4 linked regions of the Homo sapiens genome follow. The protein of the gene in region 4 interacts with the protein of the main gene of each other region in a biochemical or structural test. Each region holds a gene or a part of one and is shown on either strand. Other genes may lie near its edges.

The links. The genes of interacting proteins can lie anywhere in the genome.
Region 1: the proteins of SNTG2 (region 4) and CLDN20 interact in a test that uses a peptide from one of them, tested with the Homo sapiens proteins (one large-scale study listed by IntAct).
Region 2: the proteins of SNTG2 (region 4) and RAB9A interact in a test that uses a peptide from one of them, tested with the Homo sapiens proteins (one large-scale study listed by IntAct).
Region 3: the proteins of SNTG2 (region 4) and SLC22A9 interact in a test that uses a peptide from one of them, tested with the Homo sapiens proteins (one large-scale study listed by IntAct).

What each region holds. Positions count from the first base shown.
Region 1 is NC_000006.12:155,274,013-155,277,048, forward strand, and holds the end of CLDN20 (claudin-20 precursor), read left to right. Parts: intron 1-1,603; 5' UTR 1,604-1,707; coding exon 1,708-2,367; 3' UTR 2,368-2,536; downstream 2,537-3,036. UniProt on the Homo sapiens protein: Plays a major role in tight junction-specific obliteration of the intercellular space, through calcium-independent cell-adhesion activity.
Region 2 is NC_000023.11:13,706,128-13,708,565, reverse strand, and holds part of RAB9A (ras-related protein Rab-9A), read right to left. Parts: intron 1-2,438. UniProt on the Homo sapiens protein: The small GTPases Rab are key regulators of intracellular membrane trafficking, from the formation of transport vesicles to their fusion with membranes.
Region 3 is NC_000011.10:63,368,587-63,372,584, forward strand, and holds the start of SLC22A9 (organic anion transporter 7), read left to right. Parts: upstream 1-1,198; 5' UTR 1,199-1,470; coding exon 1,471-1,872; intron 1,873-2,548; coding exon 2,549-2,652; intron 2,653-3,998. UniProt on the Homo sapiens protein: Sodium-independent organic anion transporter, exhibits high specificity for sulfated conjugates of xenobiotics and steroid hormones such as estrone 3-sulfate (E1S) and dehydroepiandrosterone sulfate (DHEAS).
Region 4 is NC_000002.12:1,261,849-1,265,348, forward strand, and holds part of SNTG2 (gamma-2-syntrophin), read left to right. Parts: intron 1-46; exon of another isoform or gene 47-173; intron 174-487; exon of another isoform or gene 488-570; intron 571-3,500. UniProt on the Homo sapiens protein: Adapter protein that binds to and probably organizes the subcellular localization of a variety of proteins. May link various receptors to the actin cytoskeleton and the dystrophin glycoprotein complex.

The DNA of each region.
Region 1 (3,036 bases), on a different chromosome or scaffold from region 4:
AATATTGGTCTAAGCCCTTAAAATGTATTAACTTATTTAACCCTATGAACGAAGTATTTCAATCCTCCCCATTTTCCAGAAGAGGATACTGAGGCACAGAGAGGTATAAAGCTAAGAACTGGCCCAAGTGTCTTTGACTCAAGAGCCTGTATCACCTTTTGTAAAATACATATGAATCACGACAGAGCCACTTTAGCATACCATTCAAAATTAACTCAGAATGACAAAGAAAGTCAGTACTGCAGTATTTCAGAAACCATTACATTTTTCTCAAATAAGGCAGTAAGCAGTGCCAGATGGGCTAGATAGGGGAACAGGAATAGAAAGATGGAATCGAAAGCCTTTTTGTTTCTTAAAACACAGCCAAGCCACAAAGTAGGTGGTCTTTTCCTTCCTCTTAAAAATAAACAAAGAAAATAAAGGGTTAATTTATTTCTGGTATCCTTTCACATACAACTAATGATGTGGTTATTTCTGGTATGTATTTTTGAGATCTGCCATCACTACTTCTGAATTGTTCAGAATAGCCGGCTTCATTTGGGCCAGGAAATGATTCTGGTCCCAATTAGAAAGGACCTCATGTTCTTATATACAAAAAACAGTGGCTTAATTGTTTTGAGTACCAGGCACCTGAAGTAAAACAAGTACTAACCTCAGTCAGGATTTTGCAAACAGGTATTAACTAGAACTTAGGGATAACCATGCCAGTGACTCAGACTTCTTTCCACTGCTGTCCTTCCTCCTCAAATGGTTCACTTGGGCTATGTGCCTGGCACTGTGGGTGTGTCATAAAGATCTGTTTATGAAAGCCACTTCCTAAATACTTTTCTAAAATGTATTTATAAACCATCTTTAAAAGGTGGCCTTAATTTATTTTCTTCCTTATTATGTATTGAGTATTTTCATTAAAAATAAAATCATTTGGGCGAGGCGTGGTGGCTCACGCCTGTAATCCCAGCACTTCGGGAGGCCGAGGTGGGCGGATCACGAGGTCAGGAGATCGAGACCATCCTGGCTAACAGGGTGAAACCCCATCTCTACTAAAAATACAAAAAAAAAAAAAATTAGCCGGGCATGGTGGCGGGCGCCTGTAGTCCCAGCTACTCGGGAGGCTGAGGCAGGAGAATGGTGTGAACCCAGGAGGTGGAGCTTGCAGTGAGCCAAGATCGCTCCACTGCACTCCAGCCTGGGTGACAGAGTGAGACTCCATCTCAAAAAAAATAAAAATAAAAAATAAAATCATTTGAAAAACCTATAATGCTATTAAAATTCTTTATCAGATACTATAGCTGGAATTTCAAATGTCTAAATCTCCTAACAACGTACATGTCCACGCTACAGTTTCAGCATATGTTGAGTTTTAAAAAGAATTAAGTGGGCAACTGCTTTCTTTATGCCCTGTATCAACACCACCCATGCATATCACTCAGACCAGTCTTCAAGGCCTGGTGGGAGCTTTTCTCCTCCAGCCTACAGCATCCTCATCTGCTTGGGGGCTGGAGAAGGGGGATACTCAGATGTGTTCTTGGCTCCTACTCTAAAGGGAAGCCTTTTGTTTACTTACTTTCTTTCGCTCAATCCTGGTTTTGCCTTTTTTCCTTAGGCTTTGTTATTTGGTTCTCTACTGCACAGAAATAGATAGAATTCTGACAGCCATCATTGTTAAACATCAGGATTTTCTAAGAGGACAGACTTAACAGTAACATCATGGCCTCAGCAGGACTCCAGCTCCTTGCTTTCATCCTGGCCTTATCTGGGGTCTCTGGAGTGCTCACAGCCACTCTGCTGCCCAACTGGAAGGTGAATGTGGATGTGGACTCCAACATCATAACAGCCATTGTACAGCTGCACGGGCTCTGGATGGACTGTACGTGGTACAGCACTGGGATGTTCAGCTGTGCCCTGAAACACTCCATTCTGTCCCTCCCCATCCACGTGCAGGCTGCGAGAGCCACCATGGTCCTGGCGTGTGTTCTGTCTGCTTTGGGGATCTGCACTTCCACAGTAGGAATGAAATGTACTCGCTTAGGAGGGGACAGAGAAACCAAGAGCCATGCTTCCTTTGCTGGAGGAGTCTGTTTCATGTCTGCAGGAATCTCTAGTTTAATCTCGACAGTGTGGTACACAAAGGAGATCATAGCAAACTTTCTGGATCTGACAGTTCCAGAAAGCAACAAACATGAACCTGGAGGAGCTATCTATATCGGATTCATTTCTGCAATGCTGTTGTTTATCTCTGGCATGATTTTCTGCACCTCCTGTATAAAAAGGAATCCAGAAGCTAGACTCGACCCACCCACACAGCAGCCTATCTCTAACACACAGCTCGAGAACAATTCCACACACAATCTGAAGGATTATGTGTAAATAACTGAGTAATGCATATGAAATGGAACTTTTGGGTGCCAAATGGGACTTTTAGATTAAAAAAAAATCAGAATTATGCTTAACTTTCCCTACAAAGAAAGTAGAATGTAAAATACTTTAACAACTACAAAGTAGTTTAAAATGCCAATAAAACTATCATATACAATTACATCTGTCTGAAGAGTTCTTTATTTTTTCCATTATTGTTTCCATGTTTTACTTAAAGATTTATAATTGAAAGAGGTTCTGATTACATTCATAAGGCAATTATTTGATAGCTTTTTCAAGATAATTTGCTGATACACCTTTCAAACTGGATTTTATAAAAGAACTAAACTGCCAAGTATAAAAAGTACCTTGCCCTGGTGTTAACCAAGAATATTATCCACTTTGCTATCTGGTTGGCAACAACACAGCAACTTGCTTCTGTTTTAAAGCTACAGTGTGTGAAAGTACATTAGGAATACAAGAGCTGCCTACTCCATTCAGATGCTGCTAAAACCATCCATCCCAAGTCCCCACCTCCTGTGACCAGCCCATTTCTTTTTCATTTTAGAAAACTATCTACATATATTTGTAAGAGCTGACAATATTATATGCAAACTAAGATTAGGCAGAACTGAAGAAATTGGTAAATGCTACCACAGTAAAGAAAGCCAAACCAAACTA
Region 2 (2,438 bases), on a different chromosome or scaffold from region 4:
GCTACTATTCTACCATTATTCTCTGAAACAGCTGGGAAGGGCTCACTCTTCCCTTTTCTCAGGTCACAGTTGACTGTGAAGCTGGCACTCAAGCCCAAGTCTGACCCCAAAGCCCTTGCTCTGAACCGTTACTCTATGATAAGCCCCTCTCTGCTCATAGTAAGCCCCACCATTTGTTAGAGATGGGTAGGAGACCAAAGTTCGCATGTTGTTGTTGTTGTTGTTTTGGTTTTGTTTTTTTTTTTGAGACAGGATCTCGCTGTCACCCAGGTTGGAGTGCATGGGACCATCTTGGCTTACTGCAGCCTTGAACTCCCAGGCTCAAGCAATCCTCCCACCTCAGCCTCCCAAGTAGCTGAAATCACAGGTGCACACCACCATGCCTTGCTAATTTTTCTATTTTTTTGTAGAGACAGGGTCTCAACCACGTTGCCCAGGCTGGCTTCAAACTCCTGGGCCCAAGCAATCCACCTGTCTTGGCCTCCCAAAGTGCTGGGACTACAGGCGTGAGACACCATGCCCAGCCCACATGTTTCTCTTAACAACTTCAAACAGCCCTTCAGTGCACAGTGATGGTGTTCACTTAAGGCCTCTCTCCTACCAGGGACTTTCTCTACTACTCCCTCCACCTCTCTTCAGACACAGGTGCTGTTAACCAGGAAAGCCAGAGACAGAAACTGACTTACCTGGCTGTGAAATAAAGTATGAACCAACCACTGAGTAAATGGACTTTATTCTCTTCATTAAGAACATTATTTTGAATTTGTTCAAATTAATGTCAGCAGCAATGGAATTTTTAATATAATCTAGCACATTCTATCCACAAGATTCACTTGGGCAGTTCAAACACTTAAGGAACATGAGACTGCTGCTACTTGTGTGTTTTCAGGTAGAATGAAATAAACCTTAAATGAAAATGTGGTACTATATGTGTTCTTTAGAAGTCCTGTGGCAGGATTAAAAACTTTACTACACTACAAGAGCCAGCCTGTGGGGGGTGAGATTTCAGATGCCCGTTGACAGACAGCTACTTCTAGGTGCTGGTGGGAGCACAGTTCCTGGTTAATCCTTCTGCTTACATTTTTATTGTGAAAAATGTAAAACATGTACAAAATTTCTATATAATGAGTACAATACAATGAGCTCCCATGAACTCTAAACCCAGCTTCACAATTATCAACTTATGGCAAATCTTGTTTCCTCCATAACCCCTCCAACTCTCCCTTCTCCCCAGTTATTTCGAATCAGATTATATCATTTAATCTGTACTTTAGTATTAAATGGTTTTTAAGTATACTAAAATGTATATAAGAAGATAACTATTAGAGCAGCACTGTACAAGAGAATTTTATGCAACAATGGAAATGTCCAATATAGCAGCCACTTAGCCGCATGTGACTGTGGAACACTTGACATGAGGCTGATGGAAGTGAAAAACCGCATTTTAAATTTTATTCAATTTTAAATAAATAGCCACATTTAATGAGCCAATTGGAGAGCACAGATCTAGAGCAAATTTGGTCAATAACCTTAATAGGAAAGTAGGTATTATGAATCCCTCCATGGGAAGGCAATAAAGACATGAACAATAATTGTTATATTGACCAGGATGAATTTGTAAAATCACTGCAGTAAACATTATCTGGCTGTCTCCTGGTTATATGCAATGTGAGCAACTATAGTGTAACTGAACACTTACTGTAACATGTAGGAATTCTGCACTTCTAGCCACATGCTCCACTGTTCTGATAAAAACCTTGTAGTGGCTTGTATAGTGAGAAATCAAGTGAATGGGAAATACTATTAAAAAATGATGGGACATACCTTAGTCCCTACCTCTTACTGGTTCTTTCAAATTACTACTACAGGCCAGGCACGATGGCTCACACCTGTAATCCCAGCACTTGGGGAGGCTGAGGCGGGCAGGTCACTTGAGGTCAGGAGTTCGAGACCAGCCTGGCCAACATGGTGAAACCCCGTCTCTACTAAAAATACAAAAAAAAAAAAAAAATTAGCTGGACGTGGTGGCAAGCGCCTGTAGTCCCAGGTACTAGGCTGAGGCAGGAGAATCCCTTGAACCTGGGAGGCGTAGGTTGCCGTGAGCTGAGATTGCACCACTGCACTCCAGCCTAGGTGACAAAGCAAGACTCCATCTCAAAAAACAAAACAAATTAATACTACAGTAATTACTACTATAATTAATATTAATACAATTTAAACTGTCCAACACAAGTGTGTGGCAGTTAAGGTGCATACCTTTTGAGAGACTTTTTCAATTTCAAATGTATTGCTCAATATCCAGACTATTAATGTTAAAGAGGAAACTGCAACAGTCCCAAGCCCCTTACTTTCCTGACATAGGTAACAATGTGCTAAATTGGCTGCTTTAATTCTTTGGCATCTTGCTTCAACAACTTAAAAAGAAAAGATTGAAAACC
Region 3 (3,998 bases), on a different chromosome or scaffold from region 4:
CACTCATAGGTGGGAATTGAACAATGAGAACACATGGACACAGGAAGGGGAACATCACACACCAGGGACTGTTGTTAGGTGGGGGTAGGGGGGAGGGATAGCATTAGGAGATATACCTAATGCTAAATGATGAGTTAATGGGTGCAGCACACCAATATGGCACATGTATACATATGTAACAAACCTGCACGTTGTGTACATGTACCCTAAAACTTGAAGTATAATTTAAAAAAAAGAAAAAGAAACATTATGTTAAATGAATTAAGCCAGATATACAAAGTCAAGTATTTTATGATTCAATGTATAAATCAAATGTCCACAATAGGCAAATCCTTAGAATCAGAAAGTAAATTAGCGGTTGCTAAGTGGGATGTGTGAATAAAAATGGAGAGTTACTGCTAATGGGTATGGTTTCCTATGTGGTGATTAAAATGCTCTGTAACGATATAGTAGTGATGATTGCACAACTCTTTGAATGATCAAAACACATTCAATTGTATACTTTAAAAGGGTAAATTGTATGGTAAATGAATTATACTTCAAGGAGGTTTAAATTTTAATAGAAATTTTAGTCCTAATCAAGGTGACATTTTCTCCCATATTTTGCCTCCAATTCTTCCACAGCACATAGTGCATCTCACATAATATTTATAATGTTGGAGTGCAATTGTTTATGTACTCTCTCTTACTTACTCAACTATAAGATCCTTGAACTTGTCACACACGTTACTTTAGGAACTAGCATGGAAAAGGTCTTCACAAATACTATCTGAAAAATCAATAAGCCAGTAAAAGTAAACCTCCATATGAGCTTACTCCTCTGCTTTTCATCACCATCTATTCTGTCCACATTTCAAGCAATGTATTTCCAGCATGAATTTGTGGTGTGATTTGACATGAAGGAGAACATCAGTCACCAAAATGAAAGGATTGTACCACAGTACCCTTATTTTAGTTTAACTTCGACTTTTTTAGATTAACTCTTAATCAAAAATTGGTACTTAACAAGGAAAAACTTGCCTTCTGTTGTTTTCAGAGAAGTAAAAAAAGCACCTCACCTTTGAGTCGCCAAAATTATGCTTCCTGGAATGACCGCATACCATGTAGCAGGTTTATTTTAGTTTGTTTACAGAAAAGTGTAGACCAAAGTCCAGTGCTGACTTTGGGAGCTACTAAAGACATGAAAAAGTAGAATTTTAAACACATTTCATTGTAAACGACTGGGAGTATCTGAGCAAATTATTTCTTACGTGACTTTAGAGAAAACGGCTACCTATCTGACCCCAAAACGACTTGAGGAAACTGTTTCCACGGTCCTGCTGCAGAGGGGAAGCACAGTCGTCAAGAAGAGAGTGGGGTCAGGATCAAAACACATTTAGTGTGACTTAGGGAAAGAAAACATTTTCCCTCTTTGAACCTCTCTGGATACAGTCATTTTGCCTCTACTTGAGGATCAACTGTTCAACCTCAATGGCCTTTCAGGACCTCCTGGGTCACGCTGGTGACCTGTGGAGATTCCAGATCCTTCAGACTGTTTTTCTCTCAATCTTTGCTGTTGCTACATACCTTCATTTTATGCTGGAGAACTTCACTGCATTCATACCTGGCCATCGCTGCTGGGTCCACATCCTGGACAATGACACTGTCTCTGACAATGACACTGGGGCCCTCAGCCAAGATGCACTCTTGAGAATCTCCATCCCACTGGACTCAAACATGAGGCCAGAGAAGTGTCGTCGCTTTGTTCATCCTCAGTGGCAGCTCCTTCACCTGAATGGGACCTTCCCCAACACAAGTGACGCAGACATGGAGCCCTGTGTGGATGGCTGGGTGTATGACAGAATCTCCTTCTCATCCACCATCGTGACTGAGGTAAGAGGCTCTGTTCTCGTCTCATGAGTATGTGACCTGGGTGTTTAGAATAACACAAGTAATAATCATGCTTCCAGCCTTCAGTCACATGTAGGTCCTTAGTCTTCATTCTTTCAGCAAATACTAATTGCTTCTTTATTAAATGTCTGACACCTACACATTTTGAGTAATGAATTCCAAAGTAGAAGGCATCCTGCTATTATAATGCTTTAAGTCACAGGGAGACCAAAGTTTAAACAAGCATTTATATATAATATGTTAAAATGTTCTGCTAGGTCAGTGATGCTCAGCCTGTCATTGCAAATTAGAAATATCTGGGAAATTGAGAAAAGCCTCCATGCCCAGAGTATACCCTAAAACAATCATATGAGAAGGTCTAAGAGGGAAATTTAGGTTTCTAAAAGTTTTTAAAGGTCTTCAAGTGATTGCACCATGTGGTCATGTTTGAGAACCATTTAGTATGAAATAAAAACCTATAGGTTTAGGAAAGTCTTCCAAGAGAAAGTTATGTTTAAGTTGAGACCTGAATAACAAAGGTCAGGTAATGCTGAGAAAGGAAGCCACAGAGGAAGTTAGAGACTTAATATTAGGAAACTTGCAGATCATGCTAAGAAGTTTTGATCAAGTTACACTGAGGGGTAATAAGCATTGATGTGCTGGCTTCCTTCTCTTCCAGTGGGATCTGGTATGTGACTCTCAATCACTGACTTCAGTGGCTAAATTTGTATTCATGGCTGGAATGATGGTGGGAGGCATCCTAGGCGGTCATTTATCAGACAGGTGAGTGTGTATGGAACACAGCTCTCTTTAAGGGCATTTTTTATCAACTTATGAAACATTATTTCATCTAGAATTACTTACTGCAAATTACATTCTCCTGAGGCTGCCCTGATCCCCAAACAGAAAAGGAAATTTTTAGTCCGTGTTTTGAGTGCTATTTTTAAAATTTGAGCTCTGTATGCAGGACACAGAAATGATATCTCCATGTGAACTGGGGGTGTTTCAAGACAGGTTTTAGAGAGAAGGTACCACAACATGTGGTTTAGAAATATGAGAAAGAGTTAACTAAGGGAATAGAAAGGAAGACGTTTCATCACATAGGATTCAGCCTTGGCCAGGAGTACCAGGTCCAGTCCTACCTGGACACTGTGAGCTGATAGCTTGTGCCCAGAGAATTGTCATTACATCATAGTTCCAAGTGTGATGAACACGCATTCCTCTAAAACCTGTAGGGTATATTTGAAGGTATCATTGGTGGTGTGTTGAAAAATTATGTGTAGAAACTTGATTATTGTCTTTGCAAAAACAGCTTTTTAGAACCATGTGAGGTAAGTAATCCAAGGATAATACTATCTCAGTCTGTGGTGTGAGAAGTTTGGGGTATTCACCTTGCTGTATGTCTCCTGACATGGCAGGGAACAATTACCTTCACCCAACCATGTCTCCCCTGATGGCGATGAGGGACTTGAAGTGCCACTTGCCATCCACCAACATCATGTCTTCTGGTGTCTCACCTGAAAATTTGAACCTTGAATGTACGACAGGAAATGGAATGTAGAATGAGCTAAGAGTCAGAGGGTTAATTTCCAATAGTTAGTCACCCAGTCCTCTGTGATACTGTCCTGGGAAAATGCAGATAGACCAATTTTAATAGATCACAGGGTGGTAAAAGAAGGGGTAGGAGATGCCAGGCAGGAGATGACAGTGGAGAATCAGCTAAAGACGAAGGGACAAGATAACCTAAGGATTTTGGTATTTCTCACAAACCTAAGAGGAAATATTATGTGATTATATGCAGAGTAGGCTATGATCAAACTGATTGTTTTGGAATAACTCACTCAACTGTTTATGATATCTTAAAATCGGAAATAATCTATAATTTCATTAATAATAGGTTAATAAATAAGCAGATATTCACATAATGAATTTTTACAGCAAAGGGAATGAATAAAGTACTGTCTGCAATAAGGTGAATTAACATCAAAACCATTTGGTTAGGTACCACAAGACCAACAAAAAGATTACATACTATAGTGTTCCACCAATGTAAAAGTCAAAAACAAGGAACTACATTATGATGTGAGAAAAGGGAGAAATCTAATTTCCTTTAGATTTCTATTGGAATT
Region 4 (3,500 bases):
GACTTTCCAGAAGCCAAGCAGAGACAGGGATGGGGCCCAGACTCACGTGGCTGCAAAGCTCATCCCGAATCCCGCTCTATTCCACGTGCTAGAAGCAGTGGTGTTCCGGGAGCCTGTCGCGAGTGGCCGTTAAGAGTTCTAGAACGTGTTCTCCACGGATCTTCGGGGTAGTCCTGTTTGGATAATATCAACACTGAGAGGAAGAATTCCTAAATGATTTTCCTAAAGCCATGTCAGGACAAAACTGCACCAGAGTTAAAGGCGAAGAAGGCAAGAAGACCTTATTCAAGTCTATTATGATAGGAGAGAGAGAGAGATTCAGAGATTCAACTCCACTGAAACAAAGGATGAGAGGGTTTCTACAAGTTGGGATGGGAAGGAGATTAGGGCCATCATTGTCTGTTAATTGGCCTCCTGCAAAGAAACAGAGAGCTTCCCCCATCTTCATGACAGGAGGTGGTTGCACAGCTTAGAGCCAAGCACCCACCAAGGCTGGGCTCCATCCTTCCACAGGGACAGGAGATGACGCCATCTTGCCAGTGATCACATTTTGAAGGGACAGCTCCCAGCTCCTTGAGAAAGACAGTCCTGGGTTGTACAGCCAGCAAGAGACTTCTAGAAAGATTCAGGTATCAAATGGCAGAGAAAGAACATACAATAATACATTTTCTAAAGCAAATGCTCTAAAGATAGGGAGTTCCAGGTCCCAGAGGTGGGAAGAAGCCGGGTCAAGTCTCAGTCCAGACGAGGAAACCCAAAGGCTCAGTCCAGACGAGGAAACCCAAAGGCTCAGTCCAGACGTAGTAACCGGAAGGCTCAGTCCAGACGAGGCAACCGGAAGGCTCCGTCCAGACGAGGCAACCGGAAGGCTCCGTCCAGACGAGGCAACCGGAAGGCTCCGTGCAGACGAGGCAACCCGAAGGCTCCGTGCAGACGAGGTAACCGGAAGGCTCGGTCCAGACGACGAAACCCGAAGGCTCGGTCCAGACGAGGAAACCCGATGGCCTAGCCAGCCGCTGACTGACTGTTGACGGCAAGCCGCTGACCTTGAACTTCAGTGCTCAGGGTTTCCAGTCGTATCAACACACTGCGATCCACAAGGTCTGAGTGATTGTTTTTAAAGGAGCTACAGGAACTATCTGGGGAAATGAGCTATATATGAATAATTAATTTTCCTTTTGTAGAACTTACAACACATTCTTTGTGAGGCTAAACAGTGGAAAAACAATCCCTTGCTTGATCAAGCAGTCTCACTCCTCAGAATTGAATCTAAAGAAGAGTCCATTACAACACTGAGTTCAGAGGAATCAAAGAGCTATATGTATGAGAATGTTTAAGGATATTCCTTAAATTAATGATATTTGAAGAATAATCAAAAGACCATTGAGAAATATTTTAAAATCTTACAACATATTTTAAGTAATTCTACTATAAATTTATACAGTTATATGTACAAATTCACATTGCATGAAAGAGAATATTAATTATTGTCCTATTATTAAGGTTATATTAATAATTATTGACATATTTTTAAAAATCAGATGACAAAACATAGTAATAAGTTTATCTTTTAAATTCCCTTTATTGTTGCTATAATTGTTTCATAATAAATATAAATAGAAAAAATATGTAATTTTAGAATACAACCCTTTTTGTTTTTTTCAGGAAAGGGAACATAATAAGATGATGTCTTGCAGTCCTAGGTGGGGGGTGGGCTTTCTTCAGTCGTGGGGGTGGCTGGAAATGCTGTTCTGGATATTGCCAGAGCTGACCCTGCCAGGAAGCCAGGTAGCTGCAAAGCAGACATCAAATCGACATGTACGGCCTGGCTCAGCATTGCCTTAGGACGTGTGTCTTTATGAAAGCACGTAGTGAACTCATGTGAATCCGGGATGTGAGCCCTGCATGCTGGCCACTCTGTCATGTGAAGTTATGACAACATTTTTATCACGATTCCATTTCACAGCTCAAAAGTGGAGGCTCTGAGAGAGTGAATTGCTCAAGATCAAACAGCTAATACTGGGCAAAGAAAGGCCTCAAATTTTATCTGACTCCAAAACCTGGTGTTCTTCTATTATAATACACAGCTGCCCAAATATAGCAAGTGATAGGAAAGAAACACAATTGACCTTTGAACAATATGGGCTTGAACTGCGTGGGCTCATTTGTATGCCAATTGTTTTCTATAAGTATGTTGGAAAATTTTTTGAAAACAATTTAACAATTGTAAAAACCTCTTAAGACAAACTGTGTAGCTTAAAAATATCAAAACATTAAGAAAAAGTTAGAGATGTCGTGAATTCATACAATATATGTAGATACTAGTCTATTTCATCATTTACTCCTGTAAAATATAAATCAATCAATTTGGCACCATCTGCAGTGGAGAGGAATATAGACAAAGGTAAAGATGCAGCGTTCAATCATTCCTGCCCATGGTTAACTGGAGCACATAGTGTGACATGGGTTTCTGAGTAAAATGTCTTAATCATCCCTGTGGAAGCAATTTCTCTCTCCAGTAAATTGCAGAGCATGGTAACGAGTGATCTCTCAGAGTTCTTGTGTACCTTCCCTCCTTCGTGTTGAGTCCAGTAACGTAAACCTTGAATAACACCCCGGGACCCACACGAAGTGCCACAAGGGATGTTGCAAGTGCCCCAAGAAGCGGGAATATCACAGCATTGCCAAAAAGCTGAATTGTTTGCTGTGCACCACAGATTGAGGTCTGCAGCGTGGTTGCCACCATTTCAGACCATTCATCTCATAAACAGATGATGTAAACTTATGGTGTCAATAAATACAGTGCAGTGCTCTAAGTATATCTTCTCTTCCCTGTGATTTTCTCAATAACATTCTCTATTCTCTAGCTTACTTTCTTAATTCATTTATTTATTTAGAGATAGGATCTTGCTGTGTCATCCAGGCTGGTCTTAAATTCCTGGGCTCCAGTGATGCCCCTGCCTCAGCCTCCCAATTAGTTGTGATTACAGGTGTAAGCCACTGTGCCTGAATTCACTTATTCTATTCTAAGAATGTAGTATATTATACGTATAACATACAGAATATGTGTTAATTGACTGTTCATGTTATTAGTAAAGCTTCTGATCAACAATAGACTACTAGTAGTTAAGTTTTAGGGGAGTCAAAAGTTATGCATGAATCTTCAACTGCGTGAGAGTTGGCGCCCCTAACCCCTGGGTTGTTCAAGGCCCAACTATAATGAGCCATTCAATGGGGGATGTGCGTTCCCACATAAATATCTTCCAAAAGTTTTTCTTTATCAGTTTTGACATTTAAGTTCAGTGGATAAAGAGATACTTTCTGCACCATAAGGTCAATGATGAACATGTTGTTCTTGGTTTGTGACGTGTAACCCTATAGGTTCCAGGTATCCCAGCTGAAGGAGACGATCCAGAGGGCCCCAGAATTAAAGTGCAGTTTCTGTACTCAAGGCTCATTTAGGGTTAGCAACGTATGCACACTACACACATTCACGTACA